4 linked regions of the Homo sapiens genome follow. The protein of the gene in region 2 interacts with the protein of the main gene of each other region in a pairwise test. Each region holds a gene or a part of one and is shown on either strand. Other genes may lie near its edges. The genes, in order: MAT2A, PELO, BAG3 and MYG1.

The links.
Region 1: the proteins of PELO (region 2) and MAT2A interact in binary tests that used the Homo sapiens proteins (3 or more experiments, as listed by UniProt).
Region 3: the proteins of PELO (region 2) and BAG3 interact in binary tests that used the Homo sapiens proteins (3 or more experiments, as listed by UniProt).
Region 4: the proteins of PELO (region 2) and MYG1 interact in binary tests that used the Homo sapiens proteins (3 or more experiments, as listed by UniProt).

Annotation. Positions count from the first base shown.
Region 1 is NC_000002.12:85,542,138-85,545,793, reverse strand, and holds the end of MAT2A (S-adenosylmethionine synthase), read right to left. Parts: intron 3,640-3,656; coding exon 3,421-3,639; intron 3,230-3,420; coding exon 3,047-3,229; intron 2,894-3,046; coding exon 2,760-2,893; intron 2,125-2,759; coding exon 2,022-2,124; 3' UTR 513-2,021; downstream 1-512. UniProt on the Homo sapiens protein: Catalyzes the formation of S-adenosylmethionine from methionine and ATP. The reaction comprises two steps that are both catalyzed by the same enzyme: formation of S-adenosylmethionine (AdoMet) and triphosphate, and subsequent hydrolysis of the triphosphate.
Region 2 is NC_000005.10:52,783,799-52,790,923, reverse strand, and holds the start of PELO (protein pelota homolog), read right to left. Parts: upstream 3,009-7,125; 5' UTR 2,571-3,008; coding exon of another isoform or gene 2,510-2,570; intron 1-2,509. Other genes in the region: ITGA1 (integrin alpha-1 precursor), read right to left, coding at 2,510-2,570. UniProt on the Homo sapiens protein: Component of the Pelota-HBS1L complex, a complex that recognizes stalled ribosomes and triggers the No-Go Decay (NGD) pathway.
Region 3 is NC_000010.11:119,668,346-119,675,387, reverse strand, and holds part of BAG3 (BAG family molecular chaperone regulator 3), read right to left. Parts: intron 5,538-7,042; coding exon 5,211-5,537; intron 3,134-5,210; coding exon 2,732-3,133; intron 1-2,731. UniProt on the Homo sapiens protein: Co-chaperone and adapter protein that connects different classes of molecular chaperones including heat shock proteins 70 (HSP70s), e.g. HSPA1A/HSP70 or HSPA8/HSC70, and small heat shock proteins (sHSPs), e.g. HSPB8.
Region 4 is NC_000012.12:53,302,659-53,307,683, reverse strand, and holds the end of MYG1 (MYG1 exonuclease precursor), read right to left. Parts: intron 4,651-5,025; coding exon 4,491-4,650; intron 1,777-4,490; coding exon 1,624-1,776; intron 1,487-1,623; coding exon 1,364-1,486; intron 1,005-1,363; coding exon 823-1,004; intron 719-822; coding exon 535-718; 3' UTR 507-534; downstream 1-506. Other genes in the region: AAAS (aladin), read left to right, coding at 1-195. UniProt on the Homo sapiens protein: 3'-5' RNA exonuclease which cleaves in situ on specific transcripts in both nucleus and mitochondrion. Involved in regulating spatially segregated organellar RNA processing, acts as a coordinator of nucleo-mitochondrial crosstalk.

The sequences.
Region 1 (3,656 bases), on a different chromosome or scaffold from region 2:
TGTATGCAGATTAATAGGCTTAAATTGCCAGGACTTTAGATAGACATTACCACTTCCAGGTTAATACTTTTAGCGGTTTTTATGCCTTCAATGGTTTGAAGCCCTCAACCTTAGTTGAAAACTTAAAAATGGCATTGAATGGCTGCTGCAATAAGGACACATGAATTTTGGCTTAAGTGGACTAGGAGGACTAAATCTTGCTTAGGCTTTTAAAAAATGCCCACCCACTGGGTCTAGGGATTGAGGTTATTTTCCTGAATTATGGCTAATTATGGATTACAATTCAAGGTTAAAGATACACATATAGTATTCTCAGGTTATTCATATGATAGCATTTTTTAAGAGCCAAAGTCTCAGTCACCCAGGCTGGAGTGCAGTGGCTTGATAATGGTTCGCTACAGCCTCCAACTTCTATGTTAAAGTGATCCTCCTACCTCAGCCTTTCAAAGTGTTGGGATTATAGGCACGTACCTATGGCCCCAAAGCACTTTAACAAATGAGTAACAGACACAGTTAAGGTAGAACCTAGCATTTTATTTAGATCTTCATTAAACTGTTGGAATTGAGAACCAGACATACGTAATAAACCTCCAAAAATAGATCCTGAAAGGCACTTTCTGCTTAGGGCAAGCAGTCATGGAATAAGCATGTAAACAAGCTGGCTTCTCTGTACCACACCAGCCAAGTCAGCTTTCTCCATGGCCAGCCGCACCAGCTCTGCCCTCCCTTCTGTTAACACCAGCCAGACCCCCTGTAGGTCTAACCCAAGGTTTTTCTGTAGGACACCTTGGCCTACCTGGGAATGCTGGAAACATGTTGTTAAAGGAATCATGGTGTTGAGAGAAAAAAAAAAAATCTTTTAAAAGCTGCCATCTGAGGTGATGGCTTCTCTGTACTTACGCCATACCCCAGAATACAATAAATAAGCAATTAGAAAACGTTCAAGTATGAAGGGATTTCCTCCTCCCCGCCAAAAGCACTGCTCTCTGAAGGAAGCTGGTTTCTCTGTAGCTACACCAGCTGTTCAGAAAGCTCATTGGACCTGGTTTTGAAAATAAAACAAAGTTAAAACCCTGGGAGGAGTTATTGTGCAGTGTGGAGTACTCAGGCTTTCTTATAAAGAAAAAAAAAAGTTATCTGGTACCAAAGTGTGCAACCTACAGACCCTCAGGTACTGCCCTGTGACTTCTCTGTATGACATCACAAGGCTGCCAAGTGCCTGTTTTTCTAGAACTAGGAGTTGGTGAGGTTTGGCTAGTGCTGAAACCATGCATAGGATTGGTTTACTAAATTAAAACCTTATTACGTACGTCCTCCAAAAGACAGCTGAAAGTGGAGAGATTTTGATTTGGTGCTGTTAGAGGTGGCAATTAAGAGCATAAGCACCAGGGAGATGGTTTAATGGTAACTGCCTTTTTTGATGTCAGGCTGGAGCTCCAACTGGGAACTTGCGTTACATGCAAGATTGATTGGATAGGGAACACTCCCTGACAAAGAGCTACATAATTAGAAATGGATCAAGTTACAGGGAGGATAAGGGGAAGGCTTCACATTCATAATAGAGCTCAAGACATTACAAATTCATGCTGACAGGGCTGTGGCATTGCCAGACAGAGGCTATAAGTGGAACTACAAGTACTTTACGTGCACATCACAAGGACATTTTCAGCATCTGGTGGGGAAAGTCAATGCAATTATGACTTTGGAGCGTTGGGTGATAGGGCACAAAGGTTCAATTTCAAAGCATTATTTACTACAGTGTTGTTTCTAGGCAGTTACATGGATCACCTATGCTCACTAAATTCATTATAATGGTGAACAAAACACCTAGGGACAGAATAGCAAGCCCAACTTACAGTCCCCCACAAAAGCTAAAATTCATGTCATTGACTAGAGTGACTGCAACTGGTCAGGAGCTGAAAGAGGACAGGAAAATTTAGGAAGGAGGGCCCTTTCCCTCAGAGCTTGAAGGCTTCTCTGTAGCCTACGCCAACAAGTCTGGGGAAAAAAGGCTAACACTTTCAATATTTAAGCTTTTTGGGCACTTCCCATGGGAAGCTGTCCCTACCAAAGTGGCCATAGGCTGCAGTCCTCTGATAAATTGGCTTCTTCAGATCCAGATCCCTGGAATATACAAGTCCGTAACTTAATATGTAGCATTAAATTAAAATAAAGCAAAACAATCAGCAAGACTCATTTTCAAGAGCTCTGGCAAATGAGTTCTCTGGGATATGCTAGGAAAAAAATTTGTGGCAAAAGTGTTACTTCCCTGGTGTCCAAACTCCTTGCACAGTCCTTATTAGTAACTATAGTTGTTTTTCCGTCCCTGGCTCAACAAATACGAAAACTTGTCATTATTCTGAGAAATTTCAATTGTCAAAAAGCTCACCTGAGATCACACAATACTTACCAAGGTCCCGCCGCCCACACCCTACCATGGTTTTTACATTGCAACAAACCTTGAGCAACCCACTTTATCTCTATTTTCTTAACACCCTTAAGTAGAAGAGCACAAAGCTCAAATATCAAATCTGGAACATTCTCTAGAGTGGTTAGCCTAAGCCATGGAGCACCGTAATTTTAAATTTCTCAAATAACTAAGTCTTCACTAAGGCAGCAGTTCAAAACTGTTCCAGGAATTAAAATATATTCCCATTTGAGGAGTCTTCCTTCACACCTTCACCTCCTCAGCCTTAAGTATATACACACACACCCAACACCCTCAATACTTGACTAGCAACAGGCTTTACCATCTTTACCTGACAATGACCCCAGGGCGGAGATCGAAATTCTTCTTCACAATCTCTAATAGCTCTCTCTCACTCTTCTGAGAGGTACCATAATGGAAAATGGAGATAGATAATGGATGAGAAACTCCAATAGCATAAGAGACCTAAAAGGATTCAAATGTCGTAAGAATCAGTGATTGCAAAGACCCATATACTTGTATAATACGTTGGTATAAAACAAGTAGTTAAGTAGATTACTACTAAATACCCTCCCACTTACATGACTTTTAATCGTTCGTTATATAAAGAGTGTATACCTGAACAAGAACCCTCCGGCACAGACCTCCTTTAACAAGGGATTTTGCCACCCAACGAGCAGCATAAGCAGCTGAACGGTCGACCTTGGTATAATCCTTTCCTGAAAAGGCACCTCCTCCATGAGCACCCCAACCGCCATAAGTGTCCACAATGATTTTGCGTCCAGTCAAACCAGCATCACCCTGAAATTACAGGATTTAAGTTACTTTACGCCTAGTGCTTTCCAAGTGGATTAGGTTGCCTATTCTGAATTCATTCAGCAAATATCCTCCGATGATTCACATGTAGGTTTCAGAAAGCCTGAAAAAAATGTAGTAGCCAAAATTTTAAGTAACCATCAAAAATCCAGAAAAATGCAACAAAATGACATTACCTGAGGCCCACCAATAACAAATCTGCCACTTGGCTGTAGGTGGTAGATTGTATCCTCATCAAGGTATTTCGCAGGCACAACTGCTTTGATGACTTTCTCCTTTAGGGCATCCCTCATTTCATCAAGACAAACCTCTTCATCATGCTGAACAGATATAACAATTGTGTGGACTCTGATGGGAAGCACAGCACCTCGATCCTGCATATACTGCACAGTAACCTTGAAGGCAACACAGG
Region 2 (7,125 bases):
TATCTTCAGTGGCAAAATGAACATGAGGATTATGGAGAAAGTAAAGAAAAGTGATTGGCTATAATGGACAGTTTATGCTTATGGGTTGTGGTAGGCAGAATAATGGTCTCCCAAAGATATCCATGACCTAATGCCTGGAACCTGTGAATATGTTATCTTAGATGGTAAAAGGGACTTGGAAGATGTAATTAAATTAAAGATCTTGAGATGAGGAGATTATTCTGGTAGGCACATTGTAATTACAAGGATCCTTAGGAAGGTAGTAGGGTCAGAGTCTGAGAAGGAGATGTGATGATAAAGCAGAGTCATGGGGGAAGATCTGAAGATTCTACCCTGCTCGGTTGAAGATGGAGAAAGGGGCCACAGGCCAAGAATGCAGGTGGTGGCCAGAGGCTGGTGAAAACAGGGAAACTGATTTTCCCCTAGAACCTCCAGAAGAAATGCAGCCCTGGTGACATCTTGATTCTAGCCCAGTGATACTTCTGACCTACAGAACTGTACAATAGTAAATTTATGTTGTTTTAAGCTGGTGATCTATGGCAAGTTGTTACAACAGCAATAAGAAACTGACATAGGAGTAGTAGGAGATAGAGAGAGGGTGTTGGATTAGGGCAGTCAGTTGAGAATTTTGGATTTTATCTTAAAGGCAACAAAGAACCACCAAAGATTTTTGACTAAAAACAGATATAGTAAAAATGATGTATTAGGAGGGTAGACTGGAAGTTGGGTTCAAATTGAAGACAGAAAGATAAGCTCTACAGTAGTGTGCATGGATAAGTATGGTGATGAGTCCCCAGGTTACAAACGGACTCTGAATTGATGAGAAGTTTCCAAATCTGAAAGAGATTGCTAAAGAAGAGCCTACAGAATATAATGACTGATGGGAAAGCAGTCCAATTTCAGATCCCTCATGTGTTGCGAAATGGGCATAAATATAGTGCACACAAGGTTTCTAAATATTTTAAGTCTCTTCCTGGATTCACCAATGTATATTTCACCAACATATATATGAAATTGTAACTTGTTAAACTTCTCTGTTACTTCAAGTTTCACTCTTGTCTTTTTAGAGGATACGCAAACCTCATTTCATCATTTCTACTCTAGAGACTGCTTATTTGGTAGAATGAAAAAGTACAACTTGGATAGTAAACTACTGTATTCAGATTTTGCACAAAAACAACAAAATACAATCTAAAAAAATTTGAGTTGGAGAAGAATCATAGGTCAAATATGTGTAAAAAGTAGTGGCAGTAGCTGGTAAGTTAAACCACTCACCGGCTATAATGCTGTTCAGCAGTTACCACTGTTTGGATTATTGGACATTTCCTGAGTAGTGGGAAATGTTTGGATGAAAAGCCAGTAGCTAATTATTAACTCTCTTTACATTACCTCCCTTCTGAAAAAAGCTCTGCTTGCTGATAATCAACTTCTAAATCATCTTCATAAAACTTAACAATGCTTGGCCATCTAAGGCAGGTCTAAACTAGCTGGCTCTACCCTGTTTTTAGTGGTAAAAATGCTAAATTAACTAGTACTAATAACCATGCCAGCAGTAAAAACACTGAACAATTGAATATCAATGATATGTTAAAGCCAGCTGTTAATTAACCCATTAATAAGGTGATTTTCTTTCACACAGAGATTCTATCGATACACTTTCCCCCCACCTTCTTCCATTTTTCACCATTTCAACTTTCCCCCACCCCAATCAGTAACTGGTAAAAAAGATCTGACCATGAGTTCATTATTGGGAAAATCTTACAAAATGCTATATTTCAAGCTTTTTCTAAATTGGATACAACTTTGCATTTCCACTATGTTTTTAAGTCCCCTCCTTAAAAATACACATTTATGTACAAATAACAATACTATATTTTGCATCTTAAAAGTAGACTGCCCTGTGATATTTACAGAGAAAATGTTCACCATTCCTTTCTACGTTTCAAAATATCCCTCCTCTTGGGTGCTGACATAGAAACATCATTTTGGAACAAGTGGCAGTTTCGTCTTGCATCCCTGCCTTTTCTTGTTCTGCATGGGAAAAAAGCCTAAATAGTAGACAGCAAGAAAATTCAATAATGTCCACTCTGGAACAACCCGAGGGTAGGAATTTTGCATATGTATCAGGCGCCCTATAAGCATCACCCTCCCATCCCATGCCATAAAAAAGGGTGGAGGGGAGGAAATATTCAGCAAAGTCCTAATATACAATGTGTATTGTAAAAACAACTTTAATTTTAAAAGTGAATTCTACCTTCTAAGGTTTTCAGTGCTGCCTCACTCCTACTCCTAGGGTGAAGGACTTTGGAGAGACACGAAAACTAATTCATATCAAAACCAGAACGCGAAACTCCTGCCTGCCCCGTAGCCTGGCCTGAGTACCTGGAATGCCCGAAAGTGGATGGGCGCTCTCTCTTCCTATCTGGCCCATGGCTCTGAGGACCTCCCTCCCCGCTCCAAGCCCCAAGCCCGCGAGCAGGAGATGCTCAGAGAAAAGCGAGTCGCTCACCAGTGAGGAGCCAGCAGCAGGCGACAGCGACCCCTGGGCGGGCGCGGGGCCGAGGGGCCATGGCCGGAGCAGCCTCAGCGCCAGGGGGCCGCGCTGGTTCGCAGGGCAGGACCGGGCGCGGGAGCTGCGCTCTCTGGCTGGGCCACTTATCCCGCTGCCGCGGTTCCCAGTCCTCTGCCCCAGTGGCAGCGGCGCCCAGGAGCGGGAGAGGAGTGATTTCCTGTGTTTTCGTCGAATTCCTCTAAATGCGCTCCACGCTTTTCACATCCCAGACGGATTGCCACATCGCCCGCCCCTTCGCGCTCTTGGTCTCTGAAATCTCACTGGCAGCTTCCCAGGCTCTGTCCGAGACATGGACAAATAAAGCCAGCTTCGCGGGTCCGTGTTTAGGCTAAAGTCCACGGGCTGTAGAAGCAAACCTTAAAGGGACATCTGCCTTTCATTGAGAGGGTGATCTCGTTCTCCGGGCCAAATCCCCTAAGGTGGTAGGAAGGCGGGTAAGGGCTGGACCTTCGGGAGGGTGTTGCCAGCCCAGTGGCTCCGCCTTCACACCCCTTACTTCTCCCGGCCCGGGCAGGGAGGGCGCTTTGACAGTGCCTGGGCGCCCTTAACGGGAGGCAGCTTTCCCGGGTCCATTGCGCAGAGGGATTAGGCCGTCTGTGAAAATGCGAGGATCTGGAATCCCCCCTTCCATCCCCTGCGGACACTTGAAATTCACCGTGAAGTCGTTTTGCACGAAAGGGGGCGTCCCCACCACCCCGACAGGCTCCACTGAGGGCTTTGCTTTCGCTTATGGGGGGGTGGGGGGGTTGCTTCGTTTATGGTAATTCGTGGTTAAAGGGTGGTTGCAGATAAGCTTTTCTTTGAGATAACTAGGATAAGGGGAGAAAAGGAGAAGCAAGACGGAGGAAAAACAGTAAGAGGGAGAGCGAGAAGGGAAGAGAGGAAGAAAAGCAGCCTCCTTGGAAATGGAATGTGTGTGGGCTATTTTGTTTAAGTGAATTAGGATGTTTGTACGCTGGTAATTGAATCTAATAAAGAACTCGGGGCACTACTTTATTTTTTTCTTGCTTGAAACTTTCACGAGTGAAAATGCATTAAGAGTCCAGAAGTGCTTAGGAACTTGCAATGCTTCCCTTTCCTGGTGAGTTGAACAACCTCTCTGAGTCAAAAGCCATATTCACCCTAGCTTCAACCAATGCTGGCTATTTTCAAAATAGCTGTGTCTTAGCGGTTTTGAGAATTTCAAAGACAGAAAGAATAAGTGGATTTGTGTTTAGAGGAATCTGAGGGAAACAGTTCAATTCAATTCTTCAACTCAACAACTAATTGAGCATCTCTAGCAGAACTAGGGCTAGGCAGGACAAGAGTGCCACCCAAAGGAGGGTTCGTTGAGCAGAACGCAACACAGGTAGCACAGAACAGGTAACACGAGGGACAGGAAGGAAGAAGCCCACAGGGTTCACTGGATACATTGCCAGATAGAGGATCACAGCAACTAAAAGCTGGAGAAGACAAAAGTTGAAGAAGTTTAAGGAGCGTCAAAAATGGGGTGGGCAGACCCAAGGAGGTTGAAGGCCATCAGATCTCAGTATGTTGACCCATTAATCAAGAAATTCCTTTTCTATTATGTATCTGAACTGATTCACTATTTAGTAAATACATTAAAAATCTCGTTCTCCCGTTTTTAGTTTTTATAATGTCATTTCTCAGTTCTGTCTTCAAATTTACACAAATGAGTCTCTAGAAAAATTGTATTATGTTGGGTCACAGTTCAATCCCATTGGACTTTACTTAAGTTCCTTTGTTTGTGTTCAATGCTCTCATACCCTGCCAAGGAATTCATTTCCTGTGTATATCTCGTTTCCCTGTTGGTAGTATCAGTTATGTCTTATGCCTCTCAGTATGACTCTCTGTGCTTTGAACAGTAACCAATAGATATTGATTAATTCGTAGACATTTAAAAATCATAGTAAGTACTTTCCCAATGATATTTCTCCAAATTGCTTAGTTTTCAAAAACATATAATAGTGTGTCTATATATACACAATCATGTGTATGTATGTATGTGTACATATATATGTACAGCATATACATACATATGCAAATACATATATGGCATTTTAGCAAATTGCAATATATTTCATTAGAAAAAACAAAAAGAAATTGTAAAATATTGAAATAAAGTAGGGTTAACATATAATATGTTCAAGTTTACAATTACTGGGAAATTTACCTTTCTTCTGGGGGCTAATATATAATTTCAATTTTAATATTTTTATTTCCTCTAGGACTTACAAATTATTGGTGATAACCATCACTAACAGTGATATTGTTACAATTAATTTTCACAAGTTACAAATTTTATGTTTACATGTTTACATATTTATGAATCTTTTATATGTCTAGTCAATACAAATGTAGAGACTGAGAGATAACTATGGTTAGAGAATTAATTTTAGAATCAGTGCTTATTTTCTGAACTTCAATAAACCCAAATACAAATAAATGTCAAGCCGGTTATTTTCTTAACCAATTTTATTCTGACTGACAGAAAGACATGTCATTGAGTAAAGATTTAGAGAAGACAGAAACTTGCCCAGAGTCACAAACTAGTTATTGATATGAGACACTTGATGACAAATGTTTCAGCTCTAGACTTTATACTACATACTTTTCTATTTTAAATGAGACTTGATTTGATCAGATCTCTTTAAGGGTTTGGAAGCATGAGTAGGAGCATGAACCTTATTGTGAACTGCACACGCTTCTTATGAGAATCTAATGCCTGATGATCTGTCACTGTCTCCCATCATCCCCAGATGAAAACGTCTAGTTGCAGGAAAACAGGCTGAGGGCTCCCACTGATTCTACATTATGGTGAGTTTTATAATTACTTCATTATATATTATAACATAATTATAATGGGAATAAAGTGCACAATGAATGTAATGTGTTTGAATCATCTTGAAACCGTTTCCCCTACCCCTGGTCTGTGGAAAAAATGCCTTCTATGAAACCGGTCTCTCTGCCAAAACGGTTGGGGATGGCTGCACTGAAAGATTAGAGACTGAACTGATTAAGAATTTGGAAAGTGGATGTCTATGAAATGAGGCAAGAGTAATTGAGATTATTAACCAATAATCTCAAAAAGAAAAACATATACTTAAAACCAAAGTATTCTTCTTGGAGTTAATCTAATATACTGAGTAAAGTAACTAGAGTAAGTAAGGTTCTGGAGTTACGCTGCTTGGACTCAAGTCCTGGAACCACAATATAGTAGCTGTGTGATTTGGGAAACGTCATCAAGTTTATCTAAGCCTCAGTTTTCTCAAATGTAAAGTGGGAATGAAAATACTGTACTACTTCTGGTCTGAGAATTGCTGTGGGGATTAAATGAACCGAGCCTCTGAGCATTTAGCACAATGCCTGGATTAAAGTAAGTGCTCGGTTAGTATGAATCATTCTTCTCTGTAAATAGAAGAATTGGTATTAAACAGACCATGTAAACAGGGCAGGCTCTGCGTGTGGTAGACCCTGTAGGAAGTGGTGAAATTTGATGGCCATCAGAAGAGGAACTTTAATGTCCGCCTAAAAATATCTCCATCAACTCCTATTATTATTTCTGGAATCCTCGCTTTAAAAATATTTACCTTGGATTAGGGAATTATCTTGAAGATAGTTCTATAAAATGGGTATGCATGAAGACATCAGAACCCATTATAACGTTCACATGAATTTGCTTTTCAAATTGGCTGGCCGTCAGAGGTTTTTTTTTTTTTTTTTTTTTTTTAATTTTTTTACAAGAGAAGAACATTCCGCTAAGAGGTTGGGGGAATAGAAGAGGTTCTAGAACTCCGTGTCTAATGTATGCCAGGGTTCTTTAGCAGTAAGATTATAGGTTCTCAAAGCTACAGGATAAATAAGGTACTCCCACCTGGGTAGTGGGGGTGGTGCTGATTTTACTCAAAAATAAATAATTTAAAAATTGTTGTTTGCTAAAATAACAGATTTTTATAAGAAATATTTTTAAATCATGTTTTCTTTTTAAAAGTCAAATATGAGATTTTAAATACATTTTAAGGTAGCATCAAAGTGTGGTTTTACCCCAACCCCATCCCCTCCACTCTCAGGTGTTAGGGGTAGGTGGAAGTGTACAGAACTGCTTCCGTTTTTACAAAGATTTTATGAAGATTTGGATTTTTAAGTTTTAGTATGTAAGCACTTAGGGGAATATACCCCAAAACAGTGGGGCTAACTCACAAAGCTAACTCATATGGAAAACTTAGTCTAGTTCAATAATTTTTAATTTTCTGGCATATATTGGGCTCCAGGGCTATGTTCTGCAGAGGCAAAAATGGATACAACAGTTGTTATTCCACTGCAAACCTGCTGTTCATTAATTTCTTTCACTTGTAACTAGGAAGAGAAAATAAGTAGTTTTGTGCTCAATTGTAACATTGGCATATTTCATTTTAAGCCTATTAAATTAAACAGTCTAGTGAAATTATCCTAATAGTTGTTGTTGATATACCTTGAGAACCTATGATTGCTTCCTCTCTGACCAAAATAAAGTCACAGTGATATGGAACTTAAACTTCACCATGAGCCAACCA
Region 3 (7,042 bases), on a different chromosome or scaffold from region 2:
ACAGGTTTTCCTGTGACTATAAACTACAGCCATATAGATATATAGATTTTTGTGGGGGACAGGGTCTCACTCTGTTGCCCAGGCTGGAGTGCAGCGGGGCTATCACAGCTCAATGCAGCCTCAACCTTCTGGCCTCAAGTGATCCTCTCACCTTAGCTTCATGATTAGTTGCAACTACAGGCACATACCATCATGCCTGGCTAATTTTTCTATTTTTTTGTAGAGACAGGGTTTCACCATGCTGCCCAGGCTGGTCTTGAATTTCTAAGCTCAAGCAATCTGCCCACCTCGGCCTCCCAAAGTGCTAGGATTATAGGTGTGAGCCACCACGCCTAGTAAGCCATATATTTTTTAATGAGCTATGCTCAAAGCAAAAATATCTTGACGCTTTTTGTTTTTGTTTTTGTTTTTGAGACGGAGCCTCGCTCTGTCACCCAGGCTGGAGTGTGCAGTGGTGTGATCTCAGTTCACTGCAACCTCTGCCTCCCAAGTTCAAGCAATCCTCCCACCCCAGCCTCCCGAGTAGCTGGGATTACAGGCGCCCACCAACATGCCTGGTTAACTTTTTTTTTTGTATTTTTAGTAGAGATGGGGTTTCACCATGTTGGCCAGGCTAGTCTTGAACTCCTGACCTTAAGTGATACCCCCGCCTCGGCCTCCCAAAGTGCTAGGATTACAGGATTACAGGCGTGAGCCACTGCGCTTGGCCTTATCTTGGCTCTTATTCATGTAAGTGAATATCTAACACTTCTTTTAAAATCTCACCCTAATTTCATCAACTGGGAAATAACTGGACTATATTATTTCTAAACTATTCCCAGCTTAAAACACTCAATTCCACTATAACGTTCAGTTTGGTGAAATCCTGGAAAGCCTCCCAAAAGGGAACTTTGAATCAGCTCTAAAAGGGAGGTCACCACAAACACGGTTAATGGTAAGAACAGGATGAAATATCATTTCACTGATGATGAGAAACACATGGGAATGATGTGGAGAAAATATCCCTCTCTCTACAAATGGGACCCTCCTAGGATTGCTGAACCCAAGTATGGATCGATGTAGCTGTCTACACTCCAGCAACCTCCTTTTCCATCAAATCTCTTTCGCCAATGCAGACATTCGCAACTTTGGCCCTTACCACTCACAACCCAACCACGCACCCCTCCTAGGTTCTAACAGCAATGGCTGTGTAAGAAGTGACTTTAGAAACACTTTAGAGAGGGTGTTCCACAGCCTGTGTTCTTCAAAACCGTCAAGGCCGTGAAAGCAAAGAAAGGCTGAGGGAAGACTGAAGAGAAGTTGCATCTAAATGCGGTGCTCATGATCCTTGTTTCAGTCCTGGAAGACATCCTGGAAGTGGGGGCAAACTGCTATAAAAAAGATTCAAAAATGTACTGGATAATAATGTTGTAAGAATGTGAAATTTCCTGAATCTGGTAAGTCTACCATGGTTATGAACGAGAATGTCTTCCTCTTAGGAAAATATTTGCTATTCAGGGGAAAAGGGACATGATGTCTGCAATTAATTTTCAAACAGTTAAAACACATCAATAATATACGAGAGAAGAAATGACAAGGCGAATGCAGACATATTGACAAACAGTGAACTGGATGAAGTATATGTGGGGCTCTGTATGATTCACACAACTCTTCTATGAGATTGAAATTATTTCCAAATAAAACAACATTTTAAGATGAGGGTGCTCTATTCCAGGGCCCTGGCCAGTGTGACCATTTGTAATGAAAGAATATCCCACATTTGTTCACGGGGGGCTTTCCTTTTTAAAAACTGTAGCATTCAGCTGCTCAAGTTGCAGCCACAGGGGGCCCAGGGCTGCTGACTGTCCTGCTGCTAAGCTGTGAGCTGCTTAAACTAAATGACATCCTCTTCCAGGAACCTGCACCTTGTGTCTCCACTGGAAGATAACCAGACCCCTGCCTACAACCTTCCCCAGGCCAGCACGGCTTCCAATCCGCCATAGCTGGCTGATGCCTCAGCCAGACCACATGGTACCTGATTACAAAGGGAGGAGGGGGGTTAAGACATGGGCCCTGTGGTCAGGCTCAGCCCTAAGCTGAAGAGATAAAATGAACACTTCTGAAATGCCCCGAATAATGACATGTTGAACTCATACAAGTTGGGAGTTCTCATTAAGGGACTCATATGAGGCATCATGAGATGAGAAGGATGAGTAGGCTTCATGGAGGAGACAAGACTGGCTCGTCCCTCAGAGGACAGGGAGAACCTATACTGTGCGGGCATTTCAGGGAGCGGGTTCAGCATGGGCAAAGGCACAGGGGTGGGAATGAGCAGAATGGGCCTGCAGAGTGGAGTGGGTAACTGAGTGGAAGGTGACACACTGCCTACACCCAAGGTGAGGCTGTGGCTGCGGTGTGGATGGGGGTGTGAAGAGCCCTGAAAGGGTGTGGTGGACACTAAGGAAGCTGGTCCCAGGTATGTAAGTTCTGCCAAGCTGTTTCGTCTGCTCTAAGTCAGCCGCAATGCACAATGATCAGCCCAGCAAAAGCTGCAGAGTGCGGAGGGTTCACAGCCTGAGCAACTGTCCTGCATTTCTGTTAATACCTAGCAATTTCTCGAATCTCACTTGCCTGTAGGTACACGCATGTTAAATAGGCAGGGATGAAGGGGGAACCCAGGGCACCCACAGAGCTCCTGCACCCCTGGAGACATACCACCATAACCAGTCTGCTGACGACTAACTTCCCGTACCTGAGGCCTGTCGACCACGGTGTGCACACGGATGGGCGAGGGGGAGTGGAGTGGCGTGCTGCTCCTGGCTGGTGAGCCCTCCCGGCTCGATGCACCCTGGACAGATGACCTGAACGGGGATGCCGCCCGCAGGGGCCGGGGCTCCCAGTCATCCCCCTGGATCTTGTGGTACACAGGCTGGTGGGTCTGGTACTCCCCCTGCTGCGCTGGGTAGTGCGTCTTCTGGGCTTGGTGGAAGGAGGGCTGGGCTGCTGGCCGGGTAACGTTCTGCTCGTGTATCACCGGAATGGAGATGTACCCCCGCGGGAGCTGGTGACTGCCCAGGCTGCTCCTGCCGGAGGAAGGCAGGCTGGCCGAGGAGGATGAGGATGAGCAGTCAGAGGCAGCTGGAGACTGGGACCGCTGCAAGAGACACAGGGTAGAGGGCATGACCCCACAAATGACTCCCCTGGCTTGGCATCCTGACCACGCCTTCTGCTGTGCACCTCCTCAGGGCAATCCATATTGTAAGACCTCCTATCTGTAATTTTCAATTTTCAAAATGTGCGGTTAAGACTGAGAGCTCTGGGGCTGGGCGCGGTGGCTCACACCTGTAATCCCAGCACTTTGGGAGGCCTAGGTGAGTGGACCACCTGAGGTCAGGAGTTCAAGAGCAGCCTGGCCAACATGGTGAAACCCCATCTCTACCAAAAATACAAAAATTAGCTGGGTGTGGCGGCGCATGCCTGTAGTGCCAGCTACTCAGGAGGCTGAGGCAGGGGAATTGCTTGAACCTAGGAGGCAGAGGTTGCAGTGATTTGAGATCACACCACTGCACTCCAGTCTGGGCAACAGAGAGAGACTCCACCTCAAACAAAGCAAAACAAAACAAAACAAAACAAAACACACACACACACAACAAAGACTGAAGGCTTTGGAATCAAGGGGCCTATGTTCAAATTCCTAGTAATTCAATCATTTTCTAAGCTTCATTTGAAATATAGGAAGAGTGCCCCTCCCTCACTGGGCTGCTCTGAAGATGAGGTCAGTCACCTGGGCATGTGCCTCAGCCCCAGGCCAGCACACAGGAAGCGCTCATACAAGGGATGTGTTGTCCCCACTACCCTTTCTCTGCCAATCTACAGAGAACTCGGCTGAGCAACTGGGAGCTGCCAGCATCCCGTGTGGCCCAAGGCAGGTCAAGCACCTTTCCCTGCTGGGCCACCTTCTATTCACCTCGAAATTGAGAGCATTTCCTCTTCTAAGTGCTTTGTTAGCCTAAATTTGTGAAGATGTCTCGCATTTATGTGTCACTTTGATTTCTTGCAGCAAAACCATTATAAATATAGGCATTACTTATTTTTTTATTTTTGAGACAGTCTCGCTCTATCACCTAGGCTGGAGTGCAGTGGTGCGATCTCGGCTCACTGCAACCTCTGCCTCCTGGGTTTAAGCAATTCTCCTGCCTCAGCCTCCTGAGTAGCTGGGATTACAGGAATGTGCCACCATGCCCGGCTAATTTTTGTATTTTTTGTAGAGACGGGGTTTCACCGTGTTAGCCAGGCTGGTCTTGAATTCCTGGCCTCAAGTGATCCACCTGCCTCAGCCAGGTACTACCTCTCTAAGAAAAGAAAAAAGGTATCCCACATTAACTGTAACTTTCACTCTCAAGCAGGTGTGAAGCTGAACAGATTCAGACGGAGCTGAGAGGCAAGCATGACTCAGGGTGCAGATAGGACACGGGAGTTTGTGCCCAGGAACAACGCTGGCACACACCACAGGATGATGTGCAGACAGGAAAATGAGAGGACTTACTGCTTAGGAATCCTACTAGGAATGCCTCAAATCTCAGCTAAGAACCAGATTAAGAACTATTTTTTAGCTATTAATGCACAGAATCCATTGACATATCCCTGAGATGTTTGGCTTCAGGATTAAAATGCTGTCTTAAAGCAGCTGCCTTCCTGACTCCTTATTTCTTTTGAAACTGTGGTGCACGGTGAGGGCAGGCATGGGGTCTCATTTTCCTGTCAACATAGCTCCACAAGCGGTTAAGATTTATCCATAAGCATTGAACTGAACAAAATAATGCACAGCTATCTCTGTGCTTCTGAATAGAAAGCCCAGTGTGAATAAGGAGCATGGAAATTAGGCGCCAGAAGGCAGGCCAGGCTTCCGGTCCCAGCTCTGCTCCCTCCACCTGTGTGCATCTGGAGCAGGCAGGCTGCAGTGTGCCCTTCCGAGCCGTTCCTTAGCTACAAAAAGAAGCCACATGATTCCTGCCCTGCCCCACTGAAGAACAGCCCTATGAGATGCTGGGGGATGATGTGGGGCCATCACCCTGTCTTTGCTGGGTGACCTCTGATGCTGCAGGCTAGACCCAGATGCCCTGCATGTGAACAGGTGCCTGGCCCAGGGCACTGTCCTGAGGGGATGGGCCCGGCCTGGGAAGCACAGCGGCTTGCTCCCCAGCAGGCTGGTGAGCCTGGCCTCTCCTTACCTCAGGTCCGTGGGAGGCTGGGGGCTGGGCTGCCGCCGCCGCTGCCACCTGTCCACACTGTTTATCTGGCTGAGTGGTTTCTGGCATGCCCCGCAGAGGTGACTGGGACCTCTGAGGAGCCGCTGCTGCCGCCTCAGTTCGGAATCGCTGCATCCCAGGCTGGGGATAGACATGGAAAGGGTGCACCTGCCGGTTCTCAGCGCCTTCATGGAGCACAGGAATGGGAATGTAGCCTGGTCGGAGCTGGGGGTACACAGGGTGGCCTTCCCTAGCAGGCGGCAGCCTAGAGCCCTCCCGGGAAGGGCCATTGGCAGAGGATGGAGTCTCCTGAAATAAAAAGTGGAGAAACACAGGCTGGTTAGAAACTGGGAAGTGAACCCTCCTGGCAGAGGAAACACTGTGGCGCTTGGCATTGTGATCTTCCCGAGTGACTTGGGCCTCAAAGCGTCAGCCAGCTCCCAGCCCCTGTACCCTCCAAACCCCCCACCCCATAGAGGTTGCTATTTGGCCAACAGTTTAGGAATTAGGGGCATCAGGAGAAAGCCAAAAGTATCTGTTAAGCAAAGGAAAGGTCCCAATTCTCCAAACTGGTAAGACAGGTTTCTTTTCTGGGTGACTGAGGGAAGCGGTGAGTGTAGGAGAGCTGCCCATGCCCGCATTTTCAGAGACCCGGATCAGAAGATGAGCTCCAGGAGCAGGGGTCAGCTCCAACCTCTACATTACAGCAAGCGTCTCTGTTTCCAAAAAGGCCCTCACATTTCCCAGCAATATAGAGCTTGTACTGGGCCCAAACACAGGACACAGTTTGGGAATCTTTACAGAGAAGTGGGCTGGGGAGCGAGGGCTGCCTCCTCAGGAGTATTGTTAGAACAATTTGCAGGAAGGGGAAGGACAGGGATGCAGAGGCAGCATAGGGAGAGAGGGGCACCCAGGGTTAACTGTGTCGCCTAACGATGCCAACTGACAAAGATTCTCTGCTTGACCAAATCTTAGGCTTCCGAAGCATCTCCTAGGCCCATCTGTGCACTTCCTTGTAAAGTCAAGTTTTAGCAAAAGACACTGCTAAGTCAGTTTAGCCAGAAACCCCCTCCCCAGCCTCACTATCTGATCAGCTTCCACAGCCTCCAGGTGCTGTCTAATCACCCTGGCCTGTCTTCGGCAAGAATCCTGTTTGGTCAGCATAGCCAGAAACACCCTTAGCCCTGATGTTTCCTCTTCTAATTTTCCATCCACACTGCTCCTTGACTATAAATTCCCAATCGCCCGTGTTGTATTTGAAGTTGTGCCCAGTCTCTACCCATGACTGCACGACCCCACTGCCGTGGTCCCTGTGCCTATCTTGATGGCCCCGAATAAATCTTCCTGACTGTGCTTTAACAAGTATCACTGAAGAACTTTTTCTTCAACGCAACAGAGCCTGCTTGGGCAAGGAGCAGTTGGGGTCCTTCTCTTATGTCCTCTCTTGAAGTTCTCCCTTCAGTGGCCTGGCTATTTTGGGACCCTTGAGAAGGCCAAGTTCCAGATGTACCACAGGAAAGATCTTATTTCAGACAACAAGGCTGGCCAGTCACTCACTGGGCAATGCCATCTCTCAGCAAGCTGGGCTGCGCAACAGAAGTCCTAACAGTCCCCGAGCACCGAGGGTCCTTTCCCAGGAGGGGAGCTACTGATAAGTGTCATTTGCATATATCTGTGTAAGGCAACTCTTAAGAAGGGGAGTGATCTTTCCTGACGAAGGCAGCTGTCTGCACGGCGAACAAACGCCAAAGGCTAACAATCTATGAGCTTGCAGGGGACAATCTCTACTGCTGCGGAATCAATCAAAAGTAAGG
Region 4 (5,025 bases), on a different chromosome or scaffold from region 2:
CCGCTGTACTTTGTCAATGCCCAGTTTCCACGTTTTAGCCCAGTGCTTGGGCGGGCCCAGGAACCCCCTGCTGGGGGTGGAGGCTCTATTCATGACCTGCCCCTCTTTACTGAGACATCCCCAACCTCTGCCCCTTGGGACCCTCTCCCAGGGCCACCACCTGTTCTGCCCCACTCCCCACATTCCCACCTCTAAGAATAAATAAGTTTTCCTTTTGTTTTCCACTCAGTTACCAGTCTGTCTTTTCCAGGGAGTTGCAGTGGGGTACAGTAGGGGAAAAAAGCATGGACTTTGGGTTAAGGCCCTGTTCTGTCACTTTTTAGCCACTTGTGAATTTGGTCACGTTATTTAATCCTAGAAACTATGGTTTCAAATGATTTGGGAAGCAAGGCTGAGAAGTTACTGTGAAGAAAATATATCTAGCACAGGGTCTTACACATAAATAGTTGTTTCACTTTTCACAAGTTTCTGGAATGGTGTAGGGCAAGAATAAGTCAAGGACTGGGTCAGTATGAGATGGAAGGTTTTATTAGACTAGGAGATTTGTGGGAGGTATGAGCGCTGGGCCAAGGTGGCACGGGCCATGCTCAAGGCACCCTCTCGGGTGTGGTGACCGCCAGTGAAGCCGCTTGCATGGACGAAGATGCAGCCAGGGATCCCACTGACCTGGTCCAGGGCCTCGTCCCGAAGACCCCGCCATGGCTCTGGCAGGGGCAGCCTGGGCAGAAAGAGGGAGTACAGCAGGGGTCAGAGTTGGCAGCCTTCTCTTAACAAGGCTGAGACAAGCCTGAAGGTCTGCAGAGTGGTTCCCTAGGGCCTCACCGGCTTTGGAATGAGTGGGGCTCCTTGGGCACACACTGTATTCGCCACTGTCCAGCCTGGTCAGTGTAGATAACAAAGAAGATGGCCACTGGAGGGGACAGCCCAGATTCCAGGTGGTAGAGATGCTCCTTCCAGGGACATGCACCTTTCGCCAGTTCCACAATCTCTCCACTTGGGTCCACCTGAAAGAGGGAGAGCATAGCTAGAAGGTTTAAGGTAGGCTGGGCATGGTGATCATGTTTGTAGTCACAACATTTTGGGAGGCTGAGGTGGGAGGATCAGTTGAGCCCAGGAATTTGAGACTAGCCTAGGCAACAAAGTAAGACCCTGTCTCTACAAAAAATACAAAAATTAGCTGGGTGAGGTGGTGTGTGCCTGTAGTCCCAGCTACTCAGGAGGCTGAGGTGGGAGGACTGCTTGAGCCTAAGAGGTTGAGGTTGTCTGCCACTGCACTCCAGGGTTTAGGGTAGAAGAAGCAGGAGTTCCTGTTGATTGGCAGTCAGTAATCCTCAAGCCATAATGCCTCCTCCAAGGCCTATACCTGGAATCGCTGGGCAAGGGCCTCTTCCACCAAGGCCCGGGCTGGCAGCCAGCTGTGTTGGTAGAAATCTAATCTCTGCAGAAACTCCTCTTGAACCAGATCCATTGCACGCTTGAACCCTGCCTGGGAATGATGAGAATTAGAACCATGATGCTGGCCCAAACTTGGAATTTGCTAGGGCTTAGGAGGAGCAAATGCTCCCATTTTCCCCCCACCCAAGGTTCTTACAGGTCTCCGGGTCTCCTCCCAGGCCACCTTACCTCAGTGTCTTGGTCGGGGTGGTTCCAGGTAGGATTAAGTCGAGCAACTCGTGCACTCAGGGTAGTGGTCAGTGCATATCGAGGCTCCCCCTCTGCCCACTGGGAGATCCCATTGTCCACAGCATCCACCTCCTCCACAAAGTTCTCATACATCTAAGGCAGCAGCAGGGGAAACCTTCTTGAGGCTACCTGCTACTTATGTGAAATCTTACATGATTCAAAGTATGTTCATACACACTCTTTCAGCCCTGTGAGGATCTCTCAACATTAACTGGATGAGAAAAGGGAGAATTGGCAAGTTCAGCAGCTCGCTGAAGCTCAGACAGCTCGTTGTGCTGTGACTGGAATTCAGATCACCTGATTTCTAATCCATGCTCATTCTGCTGCACAAAGCCCAAACCAAAGCCAACACGTGTAGGGAGGGGACTGCTAACTTTTGAACAAGGAAGGTCTCTAGGTGCTAGAGGCTCTCTGTGGGAGTGGGTCCCTGTGGCTGAAGGCTGGTAAATCTCCAGGTGGGGTGAGTAGGTATTCAGTGACACGGTTAATGAGGTGCAGGAGCGGCTCTGGTTGAGAACACAAGTCAAGTGGGAGAAAATGAGTGTGAGACTAGACACCAAAAGCTGGTTGCTGGGTTAGGGTTCCAGGGAAGCCCATAATGTGCCTCATGACATCAGCAGTTGTCTCCTGGGTCTGAATAAATGGTAGGATAATGCCTCAAGAGTCTCGGGGCAGAAACTTTATGCAAAATTACCCTACAAAATAGGCCTCCATAACAGTACACCTGTGGTATGTAGAAAAGTGCTACTCTCAGAGCACTGAGAAAGTAACTCCTATGCCCAGCTCTTCTTGGTTTGGATCCCAACCTGATGCTCAGTTAAAACATGGGTTTAGGCCGGGCGCGGTGGCTCACGCCTGTAATCCCAGCACTTTGGGAGGCCGAGGCGGGCGGATCACGAGGTCAGGAGATCGAGACCATCCCGGCTAAAACGGTGAAACCCCGTCTCTACTAAAAATACAAAAAATTAGCCGGGCGTAGTGGCGGGCGCCTGTAGTCCCAGCTACTTGGGAGGCTGAGGCAGGACAATGGCGTGAACCTGGGAGGCGCAGCTTGCAGTGAGCCGAGATCCCGCCACTGCACTCCAGCCTGGGCGACAGAGCGAGACTCCGTCTCAAAAAAAAAAAAAAAAAAAAAAAAACATGGGTTTAGGCTGAGGTGGGAGGATCACTTGAGCCCAGGAGTTTTTGAGTCCAGCCTGGGCAGCATAGCAAGACCCTCTCTACAAAAAAATTAAGATATATAATTAGCCAGGCATGGTGGCATGCACCTGTAGTCTCAGCTACTTGGGGGGCTGAGGTGGGAAGACTGCTTGAGCCCAGGAGTTCAAAGCAGCAGCAAGCCATGATGGCACCACTGGACTCCAACCTGGGCAACAGTCTCTCAAAAAAAAATACGGGTTAAATTTAGTCAATTGTTGCTGGGATTAGTGGCTCACGCCTGTAATCCCAGCACTTTGGGAGGCCAAGGTGGGTGCGTTACTTGAGGTCAGGAGTTTGAGACCAGCCTGGCTAACACGGTGAAACCCCGTTTCTACTAAAAATAAAAAATTAGCCAGGCGTGGTGGCAGGCGCCTGTAATCTCACCTACTTGGGAGGCTGAGGCAGGAGAATCGCTTGAACCCAGGAGGCGGAGGTAGCAGTGAGCTGAGATTGTGCCACTGCACTCCAGCCTGGATGACAGAGCAAGACCCCGTCTCAAAAAAACAAAAAAAAACAACAACAAAAATTTAGTCAGTTGTTTAGAAACCCTTCAGCAGTGGAAGGGAAAACTGACCCAGGCAGTCTAAAATCTTGATATTCCAAAAACTCTATAGTTACAGAGGGCAGAAAATGGGCAAGCTAAAACTGAGAACTGATGGGCCGGGTGCAGTGGCTCAGACCTGTAATCCCAGCACTTTGGGAGGCTGAGGTGGGCAGATCACGAGGTCAGGAGATCAAGACCATCCTGGCTAACACGGTGAAACCCCACCTCTACTAAAAATACAAAAAATTAGCCGGGCATGGTGATGGGCGCCTGTAGTCCCAGCTACTCGGGAGGCTGAGGCAGGAGAATGGCGTGAACCCGGGAGGCGGAGCTTGCAGTGAGCCAAGATTGCGCCACTGCACTCCAGCCTGGGCGACAGAGCAAGACTCCATCTCAAAACAAAAAACAACAAAAAAACTGAGAACTGAATTCAACAGCCTACCTGCAAGAAATACAGCTGACTGAACCTGGGCTTTGACTTGTAAACAAGTAAGTGTCCTCAGTACTGTGCGACCTGACTTGCATGCCAGGGCCACTAGCCATATTCTTTCCCTAAGAGCAGGAAGCTGCTTGCAGGGGACACTGGTGGAATCCAAAGACAGTTTCATAATAAAACTCTTCTCAGCTGAGCTTCCCAATTTATGTGCCACTAGTGAACTACAGTGGTGCCTAACATACACTCCCCTCAACCTTCAGGGCAGCCAGAACCTCTGAGCCATCTGCTTCCACACATAAGCAGCCTCCCCTCTGTTTACCCAAAGGTGCTGAGCAATTGCTGTTTGTGTGTGTCAATAAAAAGACGGGGCCATGCTGCTTTATGGTTTTCAAAGCCCTTCCCCATATATTACAGCATCCACTTCTCACAACCACCCCAGGATGTAGACAGGGGAGGTATCACCATTCCCTTGTGAGATGAGCCTGACTGAGGGAGAGGATGAGTGTTGGGCCTGCTATAGGCCAGGAACCCTGACCCGAGGCCCAGTGCTGAGTGCTGTGTGAGCACTGCTCCCAGGCGGCCTGCTGGAAATGCATGTGGGGGGCATCTCTGTCCTCAGGTCCCCACCTTGTCATAGAGGGTGCCCACCATGCTGTCCTCTTCACTAGTGCCCAGCAACTGGGCCAGCAGCTTGTGCCCGAAGTGCAGATAGATGAGTCCCGCACTGCTCAGCTTGGTCTGCCACGGCTTCCCAGGGGACAGGGAGCTCATGGTCTCTGTGAAAGACCTGAGGAGCATAGGGAGGTGGGGCTGAGGTGAGGGACCTTGGCTAGAGTCTCCATGCATTCATTCAATGGTTAACTCAATGCTTCCTATCTGCCACATTTTATGTTTTATTAGACATTAAGGATAAAAAACCAAGACACTGTCCTTGCTTTCAGATTCATCTGCCGGAGGCCGACAAACACAACCCCCTGAGTACTCTCACTAGACGAGACAAGGGAAAGGAAGGAAGGGATGAGGAAAGGGTTCAGAGGAGAGCCTTCAGGTCAGTTCTGAAAGATGAATTAGTGGGTGTCCACCAGATAGACAAGGGGTGAAAGAGAAAAAGCATTCCAAGCAGAGAGAACAACATGAATGATGGCTGAGAGACAAGTGTCTT